Linked DNA regions of Homo sapiens: region 2 is linked to region 1. Evidence: fine-mapped expression QTL. Tissue or cell type: left ventricle. Region 1 holds a variant in brackets; the other region holds the start of a gene. All regions are shown on one strand. Distances are between the middles of the regions.

Region 1 (10,622 bases):
TTTGTCAGTATGTTCAATTCTTTGCCTTCTACTTTTAAACTTAACTTCCTCGTAAAGCAACATTTTTCGATTACCTACTCCACCCTGACTCATTCCGATTACCTGCTCATTCTCCACCCTGACTCATTCCAATTTCCTGCTCTGCCATAACCAGTTTTCCTGCCAAACCACTCACCCCATCACTCTCTTTAAATCAGCCAATTGGAATTAGTTTGTCTGTGCGGTCTAACCCTAGCCAATAGGGGAATGACACAGCAGCAGGGGCCATGTGAGTCAGGGATAAGAACCCCTTCCCCTACCTTGTCCAAGTGCATGCTTGCCCTTGCTGTATCTGAAAGGGCACACCCTTCTATAGAAGTACATTGCCTTGCTGAGAATTAAAAAGAAAATTTTATATTTGAGTGCTATTTCTTTTTTTTGCTTTTCTTTTCTTTTGCATTTTTTTTTTTTTGAGATGGAGTCTCGCTCTGTCGCCCAGGCTGGAGTGCAGTGGCACGATCTCGGCTCACTGCAAGCTCCGCCTCCAGGATTCACGCCATTCTCCTGCCTCAGCCTTCTGAGTAGCTGGGACTACAGGTGCCCGCCACCACGCCTGGCTAATTTTTTGTATTTTTAGTAGAGACAGGGTTTCACTGTGTTAGCCAGGATGGTCTCGATCTCCTGACGTCTTGATCCACCCGCCTTGGCCTCCCAAAGTGCTGGGGTTACAGGCGTGAGCCACTGCACAGGGCCTTTGAGTGCTATTTCTAATGCAGCACCGAAACTTTATTTATAACAGTGTGCAGTGGTGTCTCCTTGTTGTTTTAATGTTTCAGTTCCCTAATGACATATGCCATTGAACATCTTTTCATTTGCTTAGGTGCCACTTCTGCTCCAGTTTTAACGGCTTAGTTGATGCTTTCTGCAGGAAAGCTCTCTCCCCCATTGTGTCAGATAGCCTTTGCTGTGTAATAGATGACTTCAAAACTTGGTAGCTGAAAATAGCAATCATATATCTGTGGGTCACGTGGAGTTCAGCTGATTAGGCAGGGTTGCGCTGGTTGGCCCAGCTTTGGGCTTGTGGGTCTCCTGGGTCTGCTGGGTCTGCTAGGTGACTCTGTTCCATAGGCCTCCAACCTTCTTTAAGCGTATCTGCCATCATATGTTCTCACGACAAAGGCAGAGGCACAACAGGGTGAGTGGAAACATGACATTTCTTAAAGTCTGGACTCACTGAGACATACCTGCAATTAGTTACAGTAAGTCACAGGGCCAACTCCAAATTCAAGGGGCAGTATGAGGCCATAGCAAGGATGTGGATGCATGATGGGGACGAGAGAAGAATTAAGACCAACAAGTCAATCCACCACAGTGCACTACTTTGATCATAACTTTCCTCTAACATGCAAATGTCCTTACCCCCAACCCAGGGTCCCAAAGGGCTTGATTGGATCTGCAGGATGTCATGGAGACCTGTAGACTAAAATGGCAAGTCGTTTGCACCTTAAATACCCAACACTCAGAGGCAGAACAGGAAGGAAATAACCAAAATAAAAACTTCCATCTCACATTCTCCTATTTCTTTTCACATGCCACTGGTCACAGCAAGTCACATGGCCAAAACTAAAGCCAAGGGATACTCATGATGAGGCCATGACACAGTAGGGATACAGAATTGGGGACAATACTTTACCCCAGTATAAACAGAAATGGAAGGATGGTTGTTCTTCCATTTATATCATCTGCCTTGACCACCACTTCTGAAACGGGCTTTAGAAAAATGCCCTTTTTTTCATCTGAGCAAGTTTCTCAGAATGCTTTCAGCCTGGAAAAAGCTGGGGGCTCAGAGGTCTTTTTACATTTCAAAGAGCCACAGTCCTTTATATTCAAGGCCAGAAGTATTTTTGTCAATAATACTTTCGAAAAAACTTTCTGAGTTTTACAAATTAAAAACAAGGAATTTTAAAAGTGGCAAGAAAACACATTTTTTTTTGTTGCCCTAGAAAGGTGAGCTAAAGGAACAAATTTTTCTTAATGACTATCTAAAAAAACAATTTTGAAGATGTGGTCAAAAAGATTGAATAGGAATGTATCCCATACATATTTCCTTATAGATAGTTTTACGGATAAGTAATTCAAGATTTGGACCAAAATATATATAAACTAATGTATAACAAATATTAGCTTGGTAGTAGTGTATTGAAATTGATATTTTAATTTCCCCAAATCTTTGTGAGGATGGCAGATTAAACAGGGTGTTTTTCAGTGAAAATATAATTTGTATATTTAGTGGTTAATGCATAACTTTTGAGAAAGTCTTTTTCAAAGACTTGTACATTGAGAAAGTGAATGATTATGATGTCTGAGTTCAACCTTTATGCAAGTCTGATGGTTTCTAATTGTTCGTATTTTAAAAAATTGTAATAGGATTTATTTGAGTTTTAAATTGATGGAACTTTTAAAATTAAAGATGATAAATGCTTATTCTGTGATTTTAGCATTTTCCTAAGAAGAGGTTCAAAGAACTGAGTGATGTAGACGAGACCAAATTCCTTCCATTTTCATTTACTTACATATAAGGACACAATTTCTCAGCACAAACAAGAAAACAGAAGGAATAAAATTTGGGGAAAATCCTTTATGAGTTTTTTTTGTCTTTATTTTATTTTAAGTTCTGGGGTACATGTGCAGGATGTGCAGATTTGTTACATAGGTAAATGTGAGCCATAGTCACCTAGGTGTTAAGCCGGGTAGGCATTAGCTATTTTTCCTGATGCCATCATGAGTTTTAACGTATTTTATTCTAGTCTACCCATGTGTCAAAATTCATTTGGGATATACCTCTCTGTGTGTCTGTCACTCCATAGTTGCTATTAATTGGGGTATAACAGGTTGTCGTGGGACTATGCCTTTAAGTTTTCTAGGTACCTGGTTGCACAGCTGGAAGGCTTTCCTAGACCAGGGCTACTCAAAGACGTAACATCAGCATCACCTGGGAGCCAGTTCAAAGTACAAGCTCTTGGGCCTTTTCCTGTAACTGTGGAATCGGAATCTCTGGAGGTGGTGCTTGGGTATCTGTGTTAACAAGCCTCTGGATGATTCTGAAGCACGCAAAAGTTTGAGAAATGACAGGGTACTATCTTATTTCTCCTGGAGTCTGGTCTTTAACCTGGGGACTTGGCTTAACTGGCAGTGCCCTGGGTTGGTTGTTTCCAAGCTGTATCTTAATGGCCACACCTTGACTTGGTCTTTGTCTCTGCACTGTATTTTATTTGGGAGTCTTTTACTGGCTCGAAGGGCTGGGGATAAAAAACAGTTCTATTTTCCAACCCAGCTAGTTTGGACTCTGTGTATTCCCTCTAAATTCTGCTTGCAAGCTAACCAGTTCTCCTCTAAGCTATACTATATCATATGTGATGAAGTCTTCCAATTGTAACCTTCTGCCTGGCAATCTTCTTGCTCAAGTTCATAGGTTCATTAGGCACATTTTCTATCTTTCAGGTTAGCTCAGGTGACAATTTTACCAGATATTTTGTCACTACATAACATAGGTCACAATTTTCCTGCCTCCTATAACTGTTTCCTTTCTTCAGCCTCTATCTGCCTCCTAGGCCCAAAACCAATACCACATATTTTAGGATTTTGCTGTGGTACCAATTTCTGTAAACGTTTGATATTGCTGAATAATAAACCACTCCAAAACTTGTGGCTTAAAACAATAATTACTTATGACTGCTCACAGGTCCATGGGTTGACTGGGGTTCTGCTGAAAGGCTGGGTGGCTCTGCTCCAGGACATGGTGGCTGCAGTGCCACTGCAGGCCCGGGTGGCTCCACTCCTTAGAGCAGTGGGCAAGCCAGGGCATGTTCTCATTGCCATGGTAAAGGTGCAAGAAGACAAGTGGAAATATGTGATGCTTCTGAAGTCCTAGGCTCAGAACTGGCCTCCTCTCGCTTCTGCCCACGTGTCACTGGCCATAGCATGTCACATAATCAAGCCCAAAGCCATGATGAAGCCATGACAAAGGTATAAATGCAGGCAAGTGTAAAGAATTAGGAACAATACTTTAATCTGGAATCCTCCCCAACATAAAAATAGAGTCTCTTCTACGTGTTATCATACATTTTTAAACGTACACTCCCAGAACATTTCTGTCATTGTCTCAGAAAAGCAGACAATTGTGCCTCCAGAACCTAGACGGTGCCTGAGGCACAGTAGATATTCAATAAATACCTGCTGAACAAGTGACTGACTGCATAAGTGAATGAATGCATTCCTGATGGATAGTTTGCCAAGTTAGATCTGTAGAGACCAAGAATTAAGGGATGATTTGGCTGACAAAAACAAGAAATGGGGAAAGGATTCCCTATTTAATAAATGGTGCTGGGGAAACTGGCTGGCCATATGTAGAAAGCTGAAACTGGATCCCTTCCTTACACCTGATACAAAAATTAAGTCAGGATGGATTAAAGACTTAAATGTTAGACCTAAAACCATAAAAACCCTAGAAGAAAACCTAGGCAATACCATTCAGGACATAGGCATGGGCAAGGACTTCATGTCTAAAACACCAAAAGCAATAGCAACAACAGCCAAAATTGACAAATGGGATCTAATAAAACTAAAGAGCTTCTGCACAGCAAAAGAAACTACCATCAGAGTGAACAGGCAACCTACAGAATGGGAGAAAATTTTTGCCATCTATCCATCTGACAAAGGGCTAATATCCAGAATCTACAAATAACTTAAACAAATTTACAAGAAAAAAACAACCCCATCAAAAAGTGGGCAAAGGATATGAGCAGACACTTCTCAAAAGAAGACATTTATGCAGCCAAGAGACACGTGAAAAAATGCTCACTACTGGTCATTAGAGAAATGCAAATCAAAACCACAATGAGATACCATCTCACACCAGTTAGAATGGCGATCATTAAAAAGTCAGGAAACAACAGGTGCTGGAGAGGATGTGGAGAAATAGGAATGCTTTTACACTGTTGGTGGGAGTGTAAACTAGTTCAACCATTGTGGAAGATAGTGTGGCGATTCCTCAAGGATCTAGAACTAGAAATACCATTTGACCCAGCCATCCCATTACTGGGTATATACCCATAGGATTATAAATCATGCTACTCTAAAGACACATGCACACGTATGTTTACTGCAGCACTATTCACAACAGCAAAAACTTGGAACCAACCCAAATGTCCAACAATGATAGACTGGATTAAGAAAATGTAGCACACATACACCATGGAATACTATGCAACCATAAAAAAGGATGAGTTCATGTCCCTTTGCAGGGACATGGATGAAGCTGGAAACCATCATTCTGAGCAAACTATCACAAGGACAGAAAACGAAACACCGCATGTTCTCACTCATAGATGGGAATTGAACAGTGAGAACACTTGGACATGG[T/G]GGGGAGCATCACACACAGGGGCCTGTCATGGGCTCGGGGGCAGGGGGAGGGATAGCATTAGGAGAAATACCTAATGTAAATGACGAGTTAATGGGTGCAGGAAACAAACATGGCACATGTATACCTATGTAACAAACCTGCACGTTGTGCACATGTACCCTAGAACTTAAAGTATAATTAAAAAAATAAGTTAAAGCAATAAACAGTATTCAAGTATACTAAAAAAAAAAAAGGAATGGTTTGGAATCTTGTCTGGACGTTTAATTCAAACCTTCAAGCTTTTCATCAGTATGTCTTCTTAGGAAAATAAAAGCTTACCTTTGTGTTTGGACTTCATAGGAGCAAAGCAATGCTTAGCATTTGGAAGACAACATAAACTAAAAAAGAGTAATAAAGGAAAAAAAATGGAACCAAAGGGAAATTGCCGAGAAGGAAGAGCTGATGAAATACCTATGGGGGATTTCATGCTACTTTATTTTTCTCAAACTCTTTCTTTGAAGGGATGAGTGAGGGAGTTCTAAGTGGCCGTCCCATGGGCGCCCAGCCCACCACTGCATGTGTTTTGTAATCAGAGCCAAGAATCAAGTGGAGAGAAGGTAGCACTGTAGTAAAACCTCCCTGCGCAATCTTGTTGGCAGGCTGTGTGACAACCTCAGTGAAGTGCATGGGACGGTCTGATGTTGGCTGACCTTGTTCACACCTTTCTTCTGTCTGTGCTCATGGTCTGGCTGTTGCTGCACATGACAATGGCAATATTTCTCCCCTTCAGAACTCGCTTCTCTGCTCTACTTTTCCAGAATTTTATTTTTACAAATATGTTGCAGTGCTTGGGACTAAAAGGAGAGAGAAATACAAGAAAGGGAGGAGGGAGGGAGGGAGGGAGGGACGGAAGGAAGGAAGGAAAGTTAGGACAAAGAAACGAAGGAAGGATAAAGGAAGGACAAAGCAAGGAGGAAAAATGAAGGAAGGACGGAAAGAAGGAAAGAAGGATGAAGAAAGAATGGAAGGAAGGAAGGACAGAGGAAGGAAGGAGGAAGGAGGGAATGTTGAAGGAAAGAAGGAAGGGAGGAAGGAAGAAGGAAGGAAGGAGGAACAAGGGAAGGAAGGAGGGATGGAAGGAAGGATGAATGAAGGAAGGAAGAAAGGGAAAGGGAAAGAAAGGGAAAGAAAGAAAGGAAAGAAGAAAGGAAGGAAGAAAGAAAGAAAAAGAGAAAGAAAGAAAGAAACAAAGAAAGAAGAAAGAAAGAATCTGGAGAAGGGCTCTGGGAGACCTCGGCATTATGGGAGTAGTAACTTGCCCTGTTTTTTCTTCTGTGCATAGGCTGCTCAGAGGTCATACGCAAATCTTGGGCCTGGTGTGGTGGCTCATGCCTGTAATCCCAGCACTTTGGGAGGCAGAGGCAGGCGGATCACCTGAAGTCAGGAGTTCGAGACCAGCCTGGCCAACATGGTGCTCCGTCTCTACTAAAAATACAAAAATCAGCTTGGCGTGGTGGCGTGCACCTGTAATCCCAGTTACTTGGGAGACTGAGGCAGGAGAATCACTTGAACCCGGGAGGCGGAGATTGCAGTGAGCCGAGATCATGCCACCGCACTCCAGCCTGGGTGACAGAATGAGACTCCGTCTCAAAAAATAAATAAAAACAAAACAAATCTGGGGCCATGCCTGAGAAGATTCCATCTGGGCACTTGTGGCTGGTGTCAAACTCATCTTAAAACAAGCCTTTGCCTCGAGCCCTATGCCTATTCTCAAGAATAGCTGGCTCCCTTTTCCTGCCTGGGTTTCAGTGCTGTTGGAACCAGCTCAGGACCCACAGACTCTAAACTCCACAGCAGAGCAGTTTTTGAGCCTGGTGAGGTGGGAGGGTAATGAGAAGTTGTTAATCTAAGGCAGTGACCTTTCCCTGCAAGTGTGGAAATGCTCATCGGAGGACTCCTCCTGCCTGGGATAAGGCCTGTCAGCAGGACAGCAAGCAGATGCATGGAGGAGGAGACGGGCTTCGGTGAAAGGCCATGCCCGCAGCCTTCCCAGAGGCCCTTACAGATCATGGCTCTCAGGCAGCCCAGGGAACCTCAGGCTCAAAGGCTATCAGGGTTTCAGTCTCCTCAGTTTTCCCTTGAAATAGGATGGCCATTGTGGGGCTTAGAATGAGGGGATGTTTGGAATGAAACCCTTTTAGAACACACCACCAGGGCTGAGATGTGTGTTAACTGCTTGGCCCATAGAAAAGGTAGGCTTCGCCTGGGCTGCATTTCAGGAGGCCTGAGAACCTCCGGATACAGCCTCTGCCTCAGCGGGTGCCAAGTTCTAGATTAAGTTTCTGCCTTTTGGGACTGTAGGACTGAAGAGAGTTCTTGACCACAGATGATTGACACACTCAGAGAGTAAAAAATATCCACACTGCCAGAGCAGCTAGTTGCCAGCTTTACGCAATTTTATTTAACCAACCAGCACTAGCTATGAGACAGACCCTTTTCTAAGTGTTTTATACATTTTAACTCCTATTGTATCAACCTCCTGTGCTATCTATCCCATTGTATAGATAAGGAAGCTGAGGCACAGAGAGGTTGAGTAACTTGGCCCAGGTAACGCAGCCTGGAAGAGGTGCTACCAGGCAATCTAGTGTTCTAATCTCATTCTAAGTCTTTTCTAATCATCACACTCTGCTGTCCCTCCATGTTTACCACTGGATAGAATATGGAGTGAAGACATAGAAAGTCCAACAGAAGTCCTTCTGTGGCTCTGGCTTTCAGAGCTGCAACTTTTGGTGTCATCTGACAGATGCACAGAGCATTACAAAAGCAGCCACAGCTTGAGCACTGAAGGCTTGCTTTTTGGAGGCTCAGCACACTCTAAGTCCTCCTGCTGAGTAAAAGGGTGCCAGGCACAGTCTAATTTGGTCACACTTTGGGGGAGCAAATACCTAAGCACTTTGGAGCTGGTGGATTTATCTGCAGGGATTGCAGGGATGCCTGGTGTGGGGATTTGCACAAACCCAAAACACGAACCCCCAGATGGCAAATACATGCTTAATGCTCATTAAAGAGATGGGCTGCTTGAAGGAATTCCTCCATTTCTTGCAAAAGGCAACTCGTATGATGGAAAAAACACAAGTTTTGGAGTCAGAGACTCAGCTGTGTGACCTTGGGTAAGTAATTTATCTCTCCAAGCCTGGTTTCCTTGTCTGCAGAATGGAGTGGATAATACCTTCTCACAGGGTGTTTATTTTTTATTTTTTTATTGAGACGGAGTTTAGTTTTGCTCTTGTTGCCAAGACTGGAGTGCAATGGCGTGATCTCAGCTCACTGCAACCTCTGCCTCCTGGGTTCAAGAGAATCTCCTGCCTCAGCCTCCTGAGTAGCTGGGATTACAGGCAGCCACCACCATGCCCAGCTAATTTTTTTTGTATTTTTGGTAGAGATGGGGTTTCACCATGCTGGCCAGGCTCTTCTTGAACTCTTGACCTCAGGTGATCCACCCGCCTCGGCCTCCCTAAGTGCTGGAATTACAGGTGTGAGCCACCACACCCAGCCCTTATAGGGTGTTTATAGAGGCTGAAGGAGATAATATACAGCTAATCTGGATGGGTCAAACCATTGACTAAGAGAAGGGACATTCCCAGAGGATGCACCATATGGAGGTTAGGAATCAGGAGGTGTGCTCTGGGATGGGCACATTCCCTTGAGAGCTGAAGATGAGCTCCCTGGCTGAGTGGTGCAGCTGAAAGTTCAGGGACTTAGGAGTCAGTCAGCTCTGGGTTCAATTCTTACCTCTATCCCTTATGGGTGACCTTGGAGAATCACCTAAGCTTTCTCAATTCAGCTTTTTCACTAATAAAATTGGAATTTTGACGCACGTCTCTTAGGACTGTCAACATTTGATGTGCTAATGAATGTAGAGAGTGTTAAAATAAAGCTAGCTTTCTCTAACCTTATAGGCTATAGCTTTATGAGTCAGCTAGCAGTCATGATATTCATCTCCCAAGGTCTGCAACAGATAAACATCTATCCCAGTGTTCACTGGACCCTTTATTGCTATTATTTTTAACTATAAACCTTGTTAAATCACTTATAGTTACACAAGGAGGGAAGGGAATGACAGTGACTGGACCCCATTGGAGAATCACTCTAGTAGCCAAACAGTGGGGGAGCTTTTCCAGTTTCCCCTTTGTTAACGTCATTCCTACATATTGACATGTACTTAACCTTTGTAATGTGACTTGGCAAGGCTAGGTTTTGAGGAGGACAGAGTTTTCTTCCAGGAAAGTCTCTCTTCCCTTCTCTCCCATCTTTCTCTCTGTAAAATCACCTCTTGACAACACCCACCAGTTTTGACTCAATGGTGGGCCACTTTTATTCAAAGAATACAAGGATCTCTAGTGGGTCCCTGAATGAGTTTTAAATGGGGTGTATGACACCCCTGAAATGGTGTTACATTTCCTCAGTTAGGGGGTCCACACAGTCACAAGGCTCCACGACCCTCCCTCCCACACAAAGGTTAAGAAACATTGTTCTGAGAGAAGAACGATGCAGAAATGCTACTCCATTTGGGGCCTAAGCACAATTTATTTCCGCAAAAGGATGGGAGGCAGATTTCCTTGGAACTTTTCCCGCTTTCCCTAACACAGAAGTTGTAGCAGTAAAAAAGATGTAAATCTTTTGTGCAGTTTCTTTCCCTAAGTATTTATCTTTGCTTTCTGGGGAGGAAGTCCTGTGTCTTTAGCTCCTCTGTGTCACTGAACCCCCATCTCTGGACCTGTCCACAGAGCAGGTAAACTTGCCTTTTCTAGAAGACCTTTGTCCTTGAAACCCTTAACTTGTTGATGGATGTTGTCATTAAAAGTCCGCAGCTGAGCAGAAGCCCTCCTGGACTCTGAGTTATGGAGTCTCCAAGCCTCTGTGAGCTGGTGACTGGTTAGGTGGCGCTGGGTGACCCCATGAACTTCCCTTACTACTGCAAACAGCCTTGCCCAACATGCACGAGCACCAGATGTCAGAAACCTAGTTGTGCCATTTAGTTTCTTCTTGTTTAGTTTCTAGAGGGTCCTAATTTGTGGCTTTTAAAGTAATTTGTCCCAAAACAAGCACCGTAGACTGATCGACTCTCTTGGGTATTTGTTTCCCATAAATCCAGCTCTCCTTAGATGAGCTTCAACTTGGATTGGAAAGAGAATTTGTTTAGTTATGCTGGGCTGTAGGCACTAAATTGGGCCGTATTGTC
Region 2 (10,622 bases), 72 kb after region 1:
TGTCAGCACTCTCTCCATGGGGGATGGGCTGGTGACTGCCCTATTCTGGCAGTGCTGACACACTGGAGAGTTCTTCATGCACTACAGTGATGATTAAATCACCAGGAGATGACTCTGTAATACCCCCTGCCTGGGAATTCATCCTGCTCTCCTCTGCTGCAGTTCTGTATAGTCGTGAAACGGATGTCACTCAGTTGCAACAAGTTCTCGAGTAGCCACTCATTGTTTTAGCCAGTTATTTATTCACCATTCACTAAGCACCCACTATGTGCTAGGTCCTAGGATCCAATAAAGTAAAAGGAGGTCAGACTAATGGGGAAGACAGATGCCCTAACACAAAATTGCAGTGTGTGTGGTTTAATACCACGGAATTGCTAACGTTCCTTTTGTTGTTTATTCAATCAATCCTTATACCCTGTATGAACACTTACAGAGTCTCTATAACATACTGGACAACAGGCCCGTTCTCACATTTTCAAGCCAGGGCAGGAAAAGTCATGAAAGCCATCAGCCTGAGTCTGTTCTTCTGACTTCCTCTTTCTTCCCATACCTGACTTCATCTTGCACTGCAAGGGGCCTCCCATGTATGTGTCTGGGCATCCCAGCCTATGTGTACAAATTTTGAAACACCTCCCGCCAGAACCTCTTAACATCAGGAAGAGGCTTCTGTGCAGCCTAGAAGCAACTTTTGGCCTCTTTGAGTAGGGAGTGCTGGGATCCAGGACCCAGAGAGTGGTACAAAAAGGGAGGGAATGGGCTTTGGGTGGGCACTGCCCTCTGGCTCTATTCACTCTTTCCCCTGTGGCTGCAGACAGGGCAGAGGAAGGCCAGAGGGCCTCAGAGTATGGTCCTCAATGCAGCCACTTGGCATCACCTGGAAACTCATTAGAAATGCAGAATCACAGGCCCCACTGCAGACTTTGTGAGAGTCAGGTCTGCTTTTTTTTTTTTTTTGAGATGGACTCTTGCTCTGTCACCCAAGCTGGAGTGCAGTGGCGTGATCTCAGCTCATTGCAACTTCTGCCTCCCGGGTTCAAGCAATTCTCCTTCCTCAGCCTCCTGAGTAGCTGGGGTTACAGGTGCACGCCACCACGCCCGGTCAATTTTTGTATTTTTAGTAGAGATGAGGTTTCACCATGTTGGCCAGGCTGGTCTCAAACTCTTGACCTCAGGCGATCCGCCCGCTTCGGCCTCCCAAAGTGCTGGGATTACAGACGTGAGAGCCACTGTGCCCGGCCAGATCTGCATTTTAACAAGATTCCCAGGTATTTCATGGCCTTTTGAGAAACACTCTCTAAGGGCCCTAGCTTAAGCCCCTCTTTTGGTAAATGAAGAGACTGAGGCTGCCCGAAACACAGGGCAGGAAGAGGGGCCTGGCCTGGGGCTGGGTTGCCCAGGTCTGAGAGTGTCCTTCTAGGCACCTTGCTATTCTCTAGGGTAAACATGTGCCACAGCAAATTTCAGAGAAAACACCTTTCGAGTAACTCAGATTGAGAGGGGCCTGGAGTAAGAGATTTACAACAAGCGATCCAAGGAAGAGAATTCCATGAAGTCATGGGCAAGGTAATTAAAGGAAAATTAAATTAAAGTGTTTTTTTCTGAATTAAAGGAGAGTGAAAACAAGTCATTGCACAAGCAAACTTGAGGGAGGGTTGAGGAACTCTTGTTTTTCATTTTGTTTCTGAGGCCAATGCAAATGAGCTGGAGTAGACTCTTCCATAGTCCAGTGAACTGCCCTTTTTTGTTTTTGTTTTTGTTTTCTGCATTCCTTTAGCCTTCCTCCTTTTTCCTCAGTATATTTTAGTTCCCAAACCTTTCTGATCCATGTGGCCCTTCACCTCCCTGCTTTTGGTTTTCTCAAATCATTCACTCAGCTCCAAAGAATATAAAAAAGATAAGTCAACAGAACAATTTTTTTCTTTTTTATTTTTTTTGAGACACGGCATCACTGTTCACCCAAGCTGGAGCGCAGTGGTGCCACCGCTGCACACTGCAGCTTCCACCTCTTGGGTTCAAGTGATCCTGCCACCTCAGCTACCCCAGTAGCTGGGCCTACAGACATGTGCCGCCATGCCCAGCTAATTATATTTTTATTAGTAGAGATAGGGTCTCACCATGTTGCCCAGGCTGGTCTTGAACTCCTGAGCTCAAGGGATCCTCCCTCCTCGCCCTCCCAAAGTGCTGGGATTATAGGCATGAGCCACCATGTCTGGCCAGAACAAAGTTTAAAAATATGGTCAGCAAATATGTCCTAAGAATATTAAATGCATCGGCTGGGCGCAGTGGCTCACGCCTGTAATCCCAGCACTTTGGGAAGCTGAGGTGGGCGGATCACCTGAGGTCAGAAGTTCGAGACCAGCCTGGCCAACATGGTGAAACCCCATCTCTACTAAAAATACAAAAATTAGCCGGGCATGGTGGTGGGTGCCTGTAGTCCCAGTTACTTGGGAGGCTGAGGCAGGAGAATTGCTTGAACCCAGGAAATGGGGGTTGCAGTGAGCCGAGATCATGCCATTGCACTCCAGCCTGGGCAACAGAGTGAGACTCCGTCTCAAACAAAAGGAAAAGAAAAGAAAAAAAGAGTTGCATTTCGATTTTATAAGTTCCCTTCAGCCAGCTACAGTTATCTACATGTTGCCAGTTGTGTTTCAGTTCTGCCTAGCCCATCTTCTCATCCCTATTGCTCACCTATCTTTTCTTTTTCCTCCTACCCTCCCTCTTTTCTTTCCCTTTCTTTCTGCCTTTCTCTCCTCTCTTTCTTTCTTGCTGGTGTTTATTAAAGCATAGTCCAGACATCATGTCAATTAACTCACTTCCTACAGAGTTTCCTTGAGGCAGGGCCACAAGAGAATGTATGTAGGCTGGGGAAATGATCTCTTATGATTATGTTCTTGACCAAAATAAGGAATTTGTGTTACTGAGATAAGAAACAATAAAGAATTTCCAAAACCTCTTCATAATACCCCAGATATTGTGGACTTTATTTTCTATCTCTATGTCTTCCCCCTAGAGTCTTTCAGGGGTGTCTATGAGAACTTTTTCATCTTCCTTTACTATTAAACTAGTAACAGAATAACAAAAACTTTGGATGTTTATATATCTAAAAAGAGGTGAATATTCTCTTTCTGTTGGTGAAAAGGATTCTCAGGGCATCAGTTTTGAAGTTAAAATTTGACAATGGAAAGTTTGCAGAGATCTTCTATGACAAGAAACCAAACATATCACTGCCTCCCCCCAACCCCTCGCCCAGGCAAACTCCTGAAGCTGATTGTTGTAATGGTTTTAAAGGTGCTTAGGATGAGGACCTAGATCTGAAGCATGGTGCACAGTTGTTTACTGTTCACACAAGTCAGATCTACGAAGGATCAAGTAATTTGGAGGTTTGGTTACTTTCCATTAGTAAACATCATCCAACTAAATTTGGGTAAAATGCCCTCTAAATAAGTCAAGTAGACAGGAGCTTTGAATGAGGGAATTAATTATAGCTGGTGTCTCCAGGAAAAAGAATCCCACTGTGGCATGGAGAATGTAATTAATGGGAGGTAAGTGCCAACAAATCACTCCTTAAAATATTAATGCTATCAAAGAACAGCTGGATAATGAGAGAAACTTGACCCTTGGGGGACCAGCAAAGGTTGCTGCTGCAGCAGAACTTTATGCAGTTATGACGTAATGAAATTCCTCTAAATTTTAACAAAAACTAATATTAAAAGGTGTGGTTCTGGGAAAGTTATTAGCAGTAAACATGTCATAATTTTTATCATCTGATTATAATCACTATATCTCATTTTTGCTGTGTTTCTAAGTGACATTTTCCTGTAATTGCTCAGGATATATATACAATTGAAACAACACTCCTAAAAAACAACTAGAGTTAAAAAAAAGATTAAGTCTGGCAAGACCTTTTTTTTGTAAATAAAAAACCCAATATCTAAGAAATTTCTGCAAAACAATTTCCCATATGCTTAAACTATTTAACTAAAAAACTGTTTCATTGTTTGTTATTGAAAGCTCCAACTTAATTTGTTTTTACTTAATAGCTTCGTATTGTCCTAAGAAATATGTAACTCTAAGAGAGCAATAAAGTTAAATATTTACACGGTCCCACTTAACGTGTGAAATGGACATGTATTTTCAGCAGCCACATAACTAAATGCTAATCCCAATACCTAAAATTAGAAATCAGAAGTAATTATTTAATTGGAATATACTTTAACTTAGATAAAAAAAAAAAAAAAAGAAATCGTTTTAATAGGAGATTTTTAAAAAAGTTTCTCCGGAATCGACTCGGTTCATCAGGAAGCTGCGAACGTGATAAATGCGTTTGACCGCGCACCTTGTGTCGCTGGAGCTGAGAACACTTTGTTCCTTTTGTTTCACTCAACTTGCCGACATCTAACTCAGGGACACGGGTATGCAGCTTGTTTGACAAATAAGCCGAGATACACCGAACATATTCACACATACCAATAGACGATGATTGGAAGTTCAGGATGCAGTCAAAATAAATGCTTGCGTTTGGCCCAGGTTTCACATAACACCAGTTTCATAAGGCACTTAGGCCGCTAACGGAGCAGTGCCCCTGAAAATAGCCCACAGGGGACACATCATTTAAATAAATGTGTTTCTTTCCCTGAACAGAAGTTCAGTTCTGCTCAATTATCATTAATTTTGCTCCTTTATTTCCTTTGCGGGCGTGAACGGAGAAGTCGTGCTCTTTGAGGTTTTGCGAGCTGGCCTTGGCTGGCAGAGGTGACCGGCAATCCTTCAGCCGGCGGAAAAAGTGCGAGTGTGTGTGTGTGTGTGCTTGTGAAAATGTGCCGTTCCTCCCAGAAAAAGTGGAAACGTAGGTGGAAAGCTCAGCACATGTTGGCGACACCTAAAAACCATGTTCTCGGTCCTGAACCTTTAGAAGCGGTATCCCAGGAACGAGTCTGAGTCTGTGCAACAGGGCACAGATGATTCGACAAACTTCAATGACTGCACCGCATTCATGCATTATATCCATTGAAAAGTAAATCCAGCGTCTCCACTCGCGCGCCCACGTGCGTGGATAAACGCGGGAATTCGGCAGCCCTCAACGTCACTCTGCAGAGATTTCCGGGCTGTGAGAGAGTTGGGGTGTGCGGCGGGGGAGGGGAGGGTCTGATATCTTCAGGTTGAGAGTCAAGTCCTGGGGGAGCGGCATGGGCGGGGGTGGCCGGGGGGAGGCGGAGGATGGAGCGCGAACCAGAAAGCGCAGAGGACCCTCGGCCCGCGCCGCACCCGCTGTGATTAGCTCCAGAGGCGCGATCCGGGAGGGCGGACTCTTTCTTAACCCTCATTGTCTCCTCCTCCCTCTTCCTTTTTAAAAGACGCCTTGCGGGCAGAGCTGTCAGCAACCCCGCGGCCGTTTGTACTTGGCCGCGGCGGAGCTGACTCCTGCTCCTGTGACAGATAGGGGCTGGGGCTGAGCGGCCGCCTGTCTGGGGTACTCGCACGTGGGGAACAAATTCTTTTCCTCCGGCTCCTCTCGGGACCCGGCGATCGCCACAGGTTGGGACTCTGTGCGGCGCTGGAGTTGGCAGCCCCGGGCGCTATGGCTCCCTTGAGGAGTGGGGAGGGAGGTGGCCGGGGGGTTGGCGCGCCCCTCGCGCGGGGAGCGCTATGAGCCGGGCGAAGGGCGGCAGCGACAGCCCCAGCAACTGCCTCTGCCGGCGCCTCCCGCAGGCCCTCGCCAACTCGCCCCGCGCACCATGCTGACTCCCGGCCTGCGGAACTCGTAGTGCAGCCCCTGTCGCCTCCCCGGCCCCTGCTATCCCACGCAGGACTGGCTTCGGCCGCCGGGGCCAGCAGCTTGCGACGTGTCCCTGGGGAGGCGGAATCGCTGTGCGCCCTGAGCCCGGGCTCAGCCCTTCGCTTTCCAGCTGCGTCCTGCTCCCGGCCGCCCAGGGAGCCCAGTGGCGATGAGGGCACTGCTGGCGCTTTGCCTTCTCCTTGGCTGGCTGCGCTGGGGCCCGGCGGGCGCCCAGCAGTCCGGAGAGTACTGCCACGGCTGGGTGGACGTGCAGGGCAACTACCACGAGGGCTTCCAGTGCCCAGAGGACTTCGACACGCTGGACGCTACCATCTGCTGCGGCTCCTGCGCGCTCCGCTACTGTTGCGCCGCGGCCGACGCCAGGCTGGAGCAGGGCGGCTGCACCAACGACCGCCGCGAACTGGAGCACCCAGGCATCACTGCGCGTAAGTGCGGGGCCCTCGGGGACATATCCCCGCCCGCCTAACGGCGGCGGCTGCATGTGTGCGCGGGAGGATGCACAGACCCAGGCAGGTCTATGCGCCTTCCTGGGTCTGTGCGCCAGGGGGACGCGGCCGGGTGGGGGAATCAAGGGATGAGTGGGTGGTCGCGTTTCAGATCATGGTCCTCTATTCATTTGCAGTCCCGCTTCCCGCCACTTGCGGTCTCTGCGGGTCGGCCCGCAGGGAAAGTTTGCCAGGGACAGTGAGGAGCGCGGGGCTTGTGCCTGGTAGCCGGGGGGAAGACAGCTGGAGCTCCCGGGAGAAGGGTAGTGCGGGTAAAGCCAGGGTAGACTTGGGTTTTGGTGGAGGGGCCGAGGGTGTCCCATTGCTCGCCCTTGTCACTTCGGGAGCTTCGGGAAGTGCCGAATGCAGGGAATCGCGACTCTTGTCGCGCGCTCATTTGCAGCCCTTCAGGGCTAAGAAACCCCAGTCACTTTTTTTTTCTGTCTTAATGATAGCGTTTCTAAGCCACGGCCCCGTTCTGCAGACTTCCTTTCAATTCTCTGCATCGAATTACCCTCTCCGGCCCACCCCCTATTGTCACGCCTTTCAGAAATGCCCAGGTCTTCGAGGTGGAGATTTAGAAACAAGGGTCGAAGGGGCTTCCCCGCCCCCTATTCTCACTTCGGAAAACACGGGTCAAATTTCCGCTGACTTCAGAGCGGAATAAATCACGACCCCAGCAGAGAAAATTTACACCTTGAAAAAAAGTTTTCCACCTGAATCGGAACATCAGGGAAACGCTTTAGAGCTTGAGGCGAGGGTTTTATGGCCAGGGAAACCGGAGAAGCGGGCGGAGCTGAGAGCGGGTGACACCCCAGGACTCCAGAGAGCCGAGGTCTGGAGCCCGCAAGAGAAGGTCGCCGGGAAAGGGAAGAGAGGCTGGAGAGATCATTAAGGGTTCCCCAACGGCCCCTCCCCGCAAACTGATAACCCAGAGGACAGGGGAGTCTGCCCTCCATTAGTGCTCCACTAGAGGGTGAATGTTGGGGGTCAACATTTCCAATCTAGAGGATTCTGGAAGTAGTTCTGGAGAAAAGATGCTCAGCGGAAAGTAGGGAAATCTAGGCCCTCCTGGCCTGTTAGAAAAATATAGACTCTTCCCCACGGCTTCACTCGCTCACCCTGGGGGACCCAGCTGCCCTCTGGGAGTAAGTGCAATTGCCCAGTCTGCAGCACGGGCTTCCTCTGCGCTCCCTACTCGGCTCGGATGCCAGAGGACAGCAGAAGGGAGAGGCAGTCTCCACACTCACTGAGTCTGGGATCAGGCAAACCCTGATGGACCTTGGCTCTGTCACTTGCCGGCGGTGTAACTTGGGCAAGTTACTTAACTGCTCTGGATACCTCTTCTCAGTTCTAAAGTGGGCATATTGCTCTCAAAGGAGTTAAGTTGTTGGTGACGTGAGAGTGTATGAATGCTGGAGCGCAGGGCTCAGTAAATGGTAGTTACTTACCTTTGCCTTGCCTTGCACGCTGGTGCTAGTAAACAAGGGAGAATGGGAGGGACACAGAAGAGCTTACGCCTAGTAGCCCACAAATAATTGATAGTTACCTGTCCCTCACTAGCTCTGTCTGTGGGAATGCGCAAACTTCTCTGATGTATTTCCACATCTGGAAAATGGAGCTTATCATGTCCATCTCACAGGGTCTCCAAGAGACTTTAATCAGATAATGAATAAGAAAGAGCCAGGCACACAGTAGGGACTTAGTCAATGCAGGCTTTCTTTCTTCTACCTGTAAGCTGGAGGCTGCGTCTTAGCACGGCTCTATCAGGGGAGAGACCTGGAGAACTGCCCAAGGGGATGCCTCCGGGCTTGGGAATTTTATGTCTGCCTTGTAGAGAGAGAAGGAAATTGGAGTTTGCTCTGTTTGAGGGATGCTTTTATAGAAAGTCTGGGCCGTGGACACCAAGAATTGCCTGGTGATCTATCTAAAGTTCAGTCTGACTTCCCAGGCTTGGATGGGAATTGAGAGGCACGGCAGCTGGAGTGGGTATTCCAAATCTTTCCTGGAAAGAAGCAGCCAGAGCTGGCAATTTGTGGTGTATGGTAGGAGACACAGTCGATTGGGGCCCTCTGTGAATTTCTTTATACTGTTCTTTCTGGAGTCTCATAAAATCCTGGGTCTGTGTGTAGAGGGGAATCTCATTTAATAGGCCTGGCTCCCTTTGCTTAGACTGGAGATTATTGAATGGGAGATGGATTGCCAGCCTAAGAGAGGGGACAAGTCTCTTACTGCTCACCGTGATCAAACTACTAAAACCTGCATTTAAACCTAGAATTATTTTAACCCCTAAAACTCACCCTTTCCCTCTAGTGCCTGAACAGGAGAACAGATTCCGTTTTTTTTTTCTGACTTCCAGATGTGCAATATGATAGTTAATTGCTAACAGAGGCTACGGTATCCGTTTGCTTCCTCCCTGCTAGGAGTAGCGAGAATATTCCATCATCACGGTTTGCATTGCATTTTGGAGGTTACCATTAACAAGCTCTGAAAAACTGAGCTGACAGCAGTGATAGTAACTGAGTCTCCCACCTCTCAACCCTCAGCTGCCCAAGCAGAGTTCAGAATCTGGGAGATCCTCATCTGAGCATCTGTTTATGTCTGTTTTTGCCTTTTAGAGCCTGTCTACGTCCCCTTTCTCATCGTCGGCTCCATCTTCATTGCGTTCATCATCCTGGGCTCTGTAGTGGCTATTTATTGTTGCACCTGTTTGAGACCCAAGGAGCCCTCGCAGCAGCCAATCCGCTTCTCACTCCGCAGCTATCAGACAGAGACCCTGCCCATGATCCTGACCTCCACCAGCCCCAGGGCACCCTCCCGGCAGTCCAGCACAGCCACGAGCTCCAGCTCCACAGGCGGCTCCATCCGCAGGTTCTCCTTTGCCAGGGCTGAGCCGGGCTGCCTGGTGCCCTCACCGCCCCCGCCATACACCACCAGCCACTCAATCCACCTGGCTCAGCCATCTGGTTTCCTGGTGTCACCCCAGTATTTCGCTTACCCCCTCCAGCAGGAGCCCCCACTGCCTGGGAAGAGCTGTCCAGACTTCAGTTCCAGTTGACACGCCCAGGCCATGAATCCACAACTCAGTCAGATGGCAGACAGGTGGAGCCCTGCTCCCATTGCCACATGCAATTCTGAGAAAATTTCCCTTGTAACTGATCAGTGTCATGGAGGAGCATGCTAGGAAAACACAGCACCTTCTAATTTGAAAGTTCCTGTCTCCAATCACAGAAAGGCTAAACCAGAGAACTGTTTTCTGGTTTTGCAAACATGTGATCATTACATTTCAATCTATGCTACTTTTATTCAAAATATGCAGCAGTTTGACTTTAAAGTTGCAAACTGGCTAAAAACGTTTTACTGGACATTCAGCTATATTGCTTAGAAAAGGGCTACATGTTTCTTTTTCATATAAGTTGTTCATTGAGTTATGATAGGAATATATTCATAAATAAGCAAAGAAAAATACCTAATTGTAATTATCAAAGGTTCACTTAAAAAATTAACTATTAGGTAAACTTAAGGGGGCAGTGAAAAATCTATTTATGATTTCGGGAGTAACCTAACCATGAATAATATTAGCATAATGAGAACATTTACTTTTTAAATAAATAACTAAATTTTGTTTACAATATGAGTTTTTCCAGAATACAAGGTTTCAATAATCACATGAGGAGTTTAAAGTTTTAAATATATACTCAGACATTCATTGTAACACAGAGTGTATGTAAAATCATTTCCCCCACTCACTGGAGGGAGTATTTATTGCAGACTTTTTGTTCAGCAACATTTAGTGTTTCAGTGAAAGTTGGACAGTTGGGGCTTAAAACATTTATTTGTAAAATGAGCTATGTTCAAATGTAAATATTTGTAATTTAATGTATTTACCACATTGACTGTACTAATTATTTAGTAGTCATACTGTAATTTTTATGTTAATAATAACTGGAGTTCAAAGTCTAGCTATTGGTATAATCATCTAATATTATATATATCTCCAGTGCCCCTGAATTTTATGTTTGATGACTATATATTTGGGCATATATCTTGTTGGATTAGAATAAATAAAACACTTTATATTTTCATGAACTCTATTTAAATTTTAATGTGATTCATTTTATCTCTTTAGCGATCCTTCTTTAAAAAAAAGGAAATGTTTTTAACACATACTTCATATTTTAAAATTAAAAAAAAATTCCATATCAGGGCTCGTGAAAGCAGCAAAGGAAGTGAATTTTTATGGAGGTCTCAGTCTACAGCCCTCCGATGTGTTTGGCCTGTAGAGAATTCATCATTAGGACGTTTCTCATAAGAATCTGGATTTCTGGCTTCTCATGACA

Alleles and levels. Positions count from the first base shown, and alleles are read on the strand shown. Sizes are in standard deviations (SD) of each study's normalised expression.
For the expression in left ventricle of the gene that starts at base 5,377 in region 2, G is the high allele of the variant in region 1 and T is the other (small effect, 0.22 SD a copy in GTEx).

Evidence for each region. PIP is the estimated chance that this variant, and not a neighbour inherited with it, causes the effect.
Region 2: it holds the start of SHISA3, and the variant in region 1 is fine-mapped to the expression of SHISA3 in left ventricle (GTEx, PIP 0.96).

The regions. Positions count from the first base shown.
Region 1 is chr4:42,320,190-42,330,811 of GRCh38, forward strand. The region is part of intron 1 of LOC105374428 (a long non-coding RNA gene); the gene reads right to left. Among named protein-coding and RNA genes, the nearest start is that of SHISA3, 72 kb to the right of the region's middle. RefSeq lists an enhancer at 1,088-1,137. The variant T/G (reference allele first, on the strand shown) is at 5,401.
Region 2 is chr4:42,392,112-42,402,733 of GRCh38, forward strand. SHISA3 (shisa family member 3) reads left to right here and starts at 5,377. Exons shown (of 2, transcript NM_001080505.3): 1 at 5,377-6,222; 2 at 8,901-10,376. The coding sequence starts at 5,946. The coding sequence ends at 9,340. RefSeq lists silencers at 5,121-5,200, 6,841-6,890 and an enhancer at 5,425-6,314.